Linked DNA regions of Homo sapiens: region 1 is linked to region 2. Evidence: fine-mapped expression QTL. A gene starts in region 2. The other region holds a variant in brackets. All regions are shown on one strand. Distances are from middle to middle. Region 1 overlaps RIMS3 (regulating synaptic membrane exocytosis 3). Region 2 holds the start of RIMS3 (regulating synaptic membrane exocytosis 3).

Region 1 (2,905 bases), 26 kb after region 2:
TGGGCTTCCTAGCTGATGCTCTTAACCTTTACACTCCACTGTCTCCACACACAGACATTAACCAGTAATTACTTATTAAACAGCCTTATGATCCTGGCACTGTGTAAGTGACACCACAGTTTTACAGACATACACATCCATAAGATTTAGTCTCAAGTGCTGGGTGCAGGGTTCACACCTATAATCCCAGCACTTTGGGAGGGAGAAGCGGGAGGGTCACTTGAGCCCAGGAGTTTGAGACCAGCCTAGGCAACATAGTGAGACCCCCTGGTTTAAAAAACAAAAAAGATTCAGTCTCGCCTGTAATCTCCTAGTCTCCTAAATACAAATAGCCACACAAATGCAGTTCTGTAGTCCCATGTATATGTTACAAAGCACAAGGGAGACACACACAAAGATGTGTGACTTGTGCAGTTACATAAATAGAACGCTCAGTGTCTCTGGTAAGCTGCCCGTATTTCCAGGGAAGCATAATAGAGTAATTCACACTGCGCATGGTCACAGATAAAACCAGTCATGCAAACCACACAGACACAGCCCTCTGATTACACATGCACAGACCCAGATCACAGAAACATGTCACATGTGTGCAGGTGTACATCACAAAGCCACATTCACACACACCTTAACAGCTCCATCCTCATCAATACAGTATCCTTTTTCAGACACCTAGCTGCAGAATCTCAGTTATGTTCAGCCTGGTGGGTGACCACCTTGTGACATACATAGACCCCACATCACAGAGGAGCCAGCCCTCCCCACCAAGACCTCCTCACTTTGTGGTATCAGCCCAGACACCAGCTGGTTTTGTTTTAAAATCTCTTCCGGCTTATTTTGTTCAGAGTAACAACTTCCCCAGAAACCTTCAAATAGGCAGCTGGATGGGATGGTGAGGGGGCGGGGGCTCCGGAGGATCCAGGGAGAATGCTCATCAAGGCTCCCAGTTGGGGCTGGGGGTGGGGGACTTTTCCAGGCCTTAAAATAGATTTATACAAAGCCGTCGACAGTAGCACGTGGGCTGGTCTTTTCCAGCAATCAAGCTGTGATGTGGTTTCTCGCTGGGGAAAGCTATTATAGGTGGGGAAGGGGCTTGAGGTTATCAGAGCCCTAGAGTGGGCATGGCCTCTGTGAATATGCAGTTTAGGCCTGGTACTAGAGAGTCAGGGAGATGGGGACTTAGGGATCTAGAAATTGGGCTGGGACAAGGAAGGGGCTGAGATAGGACTAAGGAGTGAGATTAAGATTAGAAGGTCGTGGAGGTGTTGGACCCCGGGAGTCTGGCTCCAGGGGACCAAGCCCAGAAATCCAGCTGATTCAGCTTCAGACCCAAAGGCTTCTTCATGCCCAAAGTGATTTGGGGGGACAGTCTTCCAAGGCCAGGATGGGGACCTGAGTCACTGGGAGAACCTTCTAGTGGTCTGCCTTGACTTTACAGGCTGCAGGCAGGGATTGGAGCAGATACCAGGAAGACCTTTCATCTTGAGAAGAGATGAATGAT[G/C]ATGGGGCTTCTGAATCCCTTGTCTCCTTGGTATGCAAGGGCATGGCTAAAGGACTGGAGCTAGGGGAACTGCCCAGATGCCCTTCTAACTGAAGGTCTCTGTGAATCAGCTAATTGCTGAATGTGAGTGAGGAGAGTCCCTTGAGATCATCTAGTACGCTGTACTTATTTTATTGATGAGGCATCCAGAGCCTGGGGAGAAAGCATGTTCCTGGAGAACGACCTCAAGTTCAGATCCATCCCCTGTCATTTACTAGCCGGGTGACTAAGGCAAGTTACTTCACCTCTCTGAGCCTGCTGCCTTGTTTGTAGAATGAGGGCAATGATACATGCCTTGCAGAGTTATCCAGGGAATTAAGTGAGATAGGGTATGCAAAGGCACCCAGCTTCATGCCTGGCACATAGTATAGGCACTCAGTGAAGTGTTGATGCTGTTATTATTACCTGCCATTGTACCATAAAGCCAAAAGAGAAGTGAGTTCTCAGCCTCCACACCTCTGCTCCTTCCCTGTAGCACGTTCCTCTCCATCTAGAATTCCTTCTCCATTTTTTGCCCCCATGCCTTGAGGATGCCAGTATCCCAGCTCGGACCCACCTCATGGGTGGGAGCATCTGGTGCCAGAGGAATATATGAGGCAGACTCATGGGCATTGGCTCTGGAAACTGTTCTGGGAAAGACCTAGAAGGGTGCCCCCACTCCTGACAGATGAGATGGCTCCATTCCCTGCAGGGCTGGGCTGTGTGAAGTGGGGAGGAATTCCTCTCCTGGACTCTGTCTTCTGGGCTCAGGTCTGCCCTTCCCAGGGCCTCCTTCCTCCTGGTGTGTCCGTACTGTGCAATGGCTAGACCTCTGCCCATCCTTCTTTGTTTCAAAGCCCCTGCCCTAGTACAGGACCCATAATATCTAGCCTGGACGATTGCACCACCCTCCTCTCTAGCTCTCCTGCCTCCTGCCTGCCTTCTTCCAGTTTATTCCTCTTGTTGCCCTAGAGTGGACTTACAAAAACTCACTTTAGAGGGCTAGTCCTGGCTCTGTAACTCACCATGGGACCTCGGGAAATTTACTTTTCCGCTGGGCCTCAGTTTCCTCTTCTGTAAAATGGAGCTAAAATGCTCTCTCCCAGTTTCCTTCTGGATCTGACATTCACTAAGTCGTGGGAGCAGTGAGGAGGGTGGGGTCAGAGCTTTGGGTCCAGGACACAGGTGGGTTCTGGTCTGGCAATTGGCTGGGTCTACACAGGACCATCCTGGGCTGTCCCAGCCCCTGCCCAAACGGAGCTAGTATTTTCAGTACCAGGGACAGTGGCTTTCCCCTTCTGGACTCTGGGATCTGGGTCAGGGTAGAGAGAGGGCTCAGGACCATTCCAGAAGATGCCATAGGGAGTGGTGGTACAGGCTGTGAGTGCC
Region 2 (2,905 bases):
TCACTGCAACCTCCGCCTCCTGGGTTCAAGTGATTCTCGTACCTCAGCCTCCCGAGTAGCTGGGACTATAGTTGTGTGCCACCACACCTGGCTAATTTTTGTATTTTTAGTAGAGATGGGGTTTCACCATGTTGGCCAGGTTGATCTCGAACTCCCAGCCTCAAGCAATCCACCCACCTTGGCCTCCCAAAACACTGGTACAGGCATGAGCCACCGCACCCAGCTCCCATTTACATTTTAATTCATGCCCTCAGCAGGGAGACTACTGGTTTTACATGCCTCCAGCAAATATTAATTATTCTGTCCTCTCTGTCAGTGGGTGGAATTCAAAACACTGGAGCCCAAGAGTGGAACTGACCAGTCCTAAGCAAGGTTAAATATACAAGTTGGGGCAGGCACGACCCTAGGAAAGACTTCATACAGTATCCTCCCGGGCTGCAGAAGAACCCAGGACTCCAGGAGTCTATTTGGAAGTTTATATAGGCAGATGCCAGGCCCTAGAACAGAGTTTCTCAACCTCAGAAACCTGCTGACATTTCGGGCCTGACAATTCTCTGGCGCAGGGGCTGTCCTGTGCATTGAAGGCGTGTAGCAGCATCCCTGGTCTCTTCTCATGAGACGCCAGTAGCAACCTCCTCGTTGGGAAAACCAAAAATGTCTCCAGACATGGTCGAATGTTCCCTGGGGGGCAAAATCGCCCCAAGTTTAAAACCATTGCTCTAGAAGTAGAGAGCGCAGGGGAAGCAGGTTAACTTGGGCTTCAGGGCCGGCCACTCTACTTCCTTCTGTCTGAAAGGGACATTATAAAGTCTTTCTCTTCATACCAGGCACTTGGGCAAGTCTTTTCTCCTATCTGAGCTTCAGATTTTCCATCTGTAAAATGGACTTGACGTTTGTAAGTCGTTTCTTCTCTTACCATCTGACGTTCCTGGAACTGCTTCAGGGCAGGGCAGGGCAGGGGGCGCCGTGGTGCCTGTGAGGTCCTGGGAGGTGCCCCAAAGAAAAGGAAGGATGAGAAAGAACAGATAGGGTAGGTGGTGGAGAGGGGAGGCCGGGCAGGAGGCAAGAGAGTCCTAGGGACACGGAGAGGAATGAGGCTTCCCCAGACCCCGCTTCTTGGAAGCCTCATTAATGTAGGTCCCCCAACCACAACCCGGCAAGCCAAACTCCCCGGATTCCCCTAGGCCCCGCCCACCACCAAGGTCCGGCCCACTGGCCCCGCCCATCCACGCGGCCCCGCCCCCGGCAGGCCCCGCCTCCCCTTCGCCTCCCGCCGGCCCAAGCTTGGGCTTTGCACCCGGCGGCGACTGAAAACGGTGGCTGCTGCGGAGCCGGCAGCGCAGGCGGGCGGAGCGGAGCTGCCCCCGTGGTGGCGGGCGATGCCCCCGTGAGCCTCCCTCGCCGCCCCTCCCCGCCCCGCGTGCCTATCCACTCGGAGTCCGCGCCAGCCTGGGGCCGGGCCGCGCCTACTGCCGGGTTCGCGGGGCGGGGTCCCGGGGCAGCACCTGCCCCGCCTTGCGGAGCCGCCTCGGCCTGTGGAGGCCCCCTCCCTGTCTGGACCCCGGCCCCACCTCCGGGTAAGTCAGCAGGCCTTGCTCGCCTGGGAGTGGACGTGGGGAGGGGGCTGCAGAGGTCTGGAGGACCACGGGGGGAGGGGGGCTCTGGCCATGAAGCGCAACGTAGGTATGTGAGTGTGCAGGGGCGGGGGTGGGGGGATGAACACAGGGTGTGAGAGGGCTCTGGGGAGGGGACTAAGGGATGAGAGAGGGACGTGGGGTGTTTGGGGAAGCCTGGAAAATGGGGAAGGGGGCCCAGAGTCTTGAGTTCTTTGCTGATGCTCAGAGCTCCTGGGGCCCTGGTCTTCAACAGCATTGCCTGGCATGGCATTTTTGGAAAGTGCTTAAAATCCCTCCTGGAAAGGGAGCTGGAAGGCAGCCTGCTTTTCTCCCTTCTGCCTGTGCCCTGGTTGAGAAGCAGCCACTTTTTCCTCAACGTGACACCGTTGTGGTGTCCAGAGGACCCCCTCCACCCCATAAAAGAAAAGGAGTGCTGCTTACTCCAGCCCTGGGGTGGGAAGAGGGGGCTTTGGGAAGCTGGGAATGCAGTTGGTCAGCAGCATGGTGCAGAGCCCAGGGTTCAGGGAGGCTTGGCAGGACCCTTGATGGGCAACTTGGGCATGCTCTCATTCATAGGGAGGAGCTCTTCCCTGACTGGCCGCCTGGGTACCTGGACTCCATGTCCCCATCACCTCTGGACAACTCAGCCCTGAGGAGTGGGTTTCTTCAGTGTCCTGGTCCTGAAGGCTCAGGAAGGATCCTGGAATGGGGTGGGCAATGGCATATCAAGGCTGGAGAACAGGGGGCATTGGCTGGCACTGCCACTTGGGGCCTGTTTCAATGTGGTCCTTCAGGGCTTGGACACCTGGGTGAATATGTGTCCAACCCTAGCCCCAGGGGTGTTATCAGGATGTAGGGAAGAAGGCTGCTGCTCCTTTGGTCCTGTCCTCTATCCATGATGACTTCTTAAGTCTGGGTTCCTTGGGTTTGGGGCCTGAAGTCATGGGAGGAGGATTGGGCCTGGTCAACAAGGGGTTAATGAGCCATCTCCCCCACCCCACCATAGTTGCTGCCAGCCACCAATTAGTCTGTAATCAGGCAGCTGCCAACTGTCCCTGGGGGCATGTGGGTAGCCTAATGGGGCATTCTTGGTTGGGAGGCGGGGTGGGTGGGTTGGCAGGGATGTGCTGGGGAGGTGACCCATGTGCCCTGTGCTTAAACCAAGCACCATGCCCTTTGTTGTTTGTTTAGGGCCCACAGACCCCTTCCCTGCCTTCTGTTCCTGACTGCCTTGCTTAGGGACTTCCAGCCCTGGGGTTCTACACTTATCCGACCCTTTGCAGGGTATG

Evidence for each region. PIP is the estimated chance that this variant, and not a neighbour inherited with it, causes the effect. A credible set is the group of variants that fine-mapping cannot tell apart.
Region 1: its variant is the best candidate, but not a certain one, in a credible set for the expression of RIMS3 in whole blood (INTERVAL, PIP 0.89).

Annotation. Positions count from the first base shown.
Region 1 is chr1:40,638,524-40,641,428 of GRCh38, reverse strand. The region is part of intron 3 of RIMS3 (regulating synaptic membrane exocytosis 3); the gene reads left to right. Among named protein-coding and RNA genes, the nearest start is that of RIMS3, 26 kb to the left of the region's middle. The variant G/C (reference allele first, on the strand shown) is at 1,499.
Region 2 is chr1:40,664,066-40,666,970 of GRCh38, reverse strand. RIMS3 (regulating synaptic membrane exocytosis 3) reads left to right here and starts at 1,289. Exons shown (of 8, transcript NM_014747.3): 1 at 1,289-1,577. It overlaps LOC105378675 (a long non-coding RNA gene), which reads right to left. Exons shown (of 2, transcript XR_947238.3): 2 at 1-983. RefSeq lists a silencer at 1,144-1,573.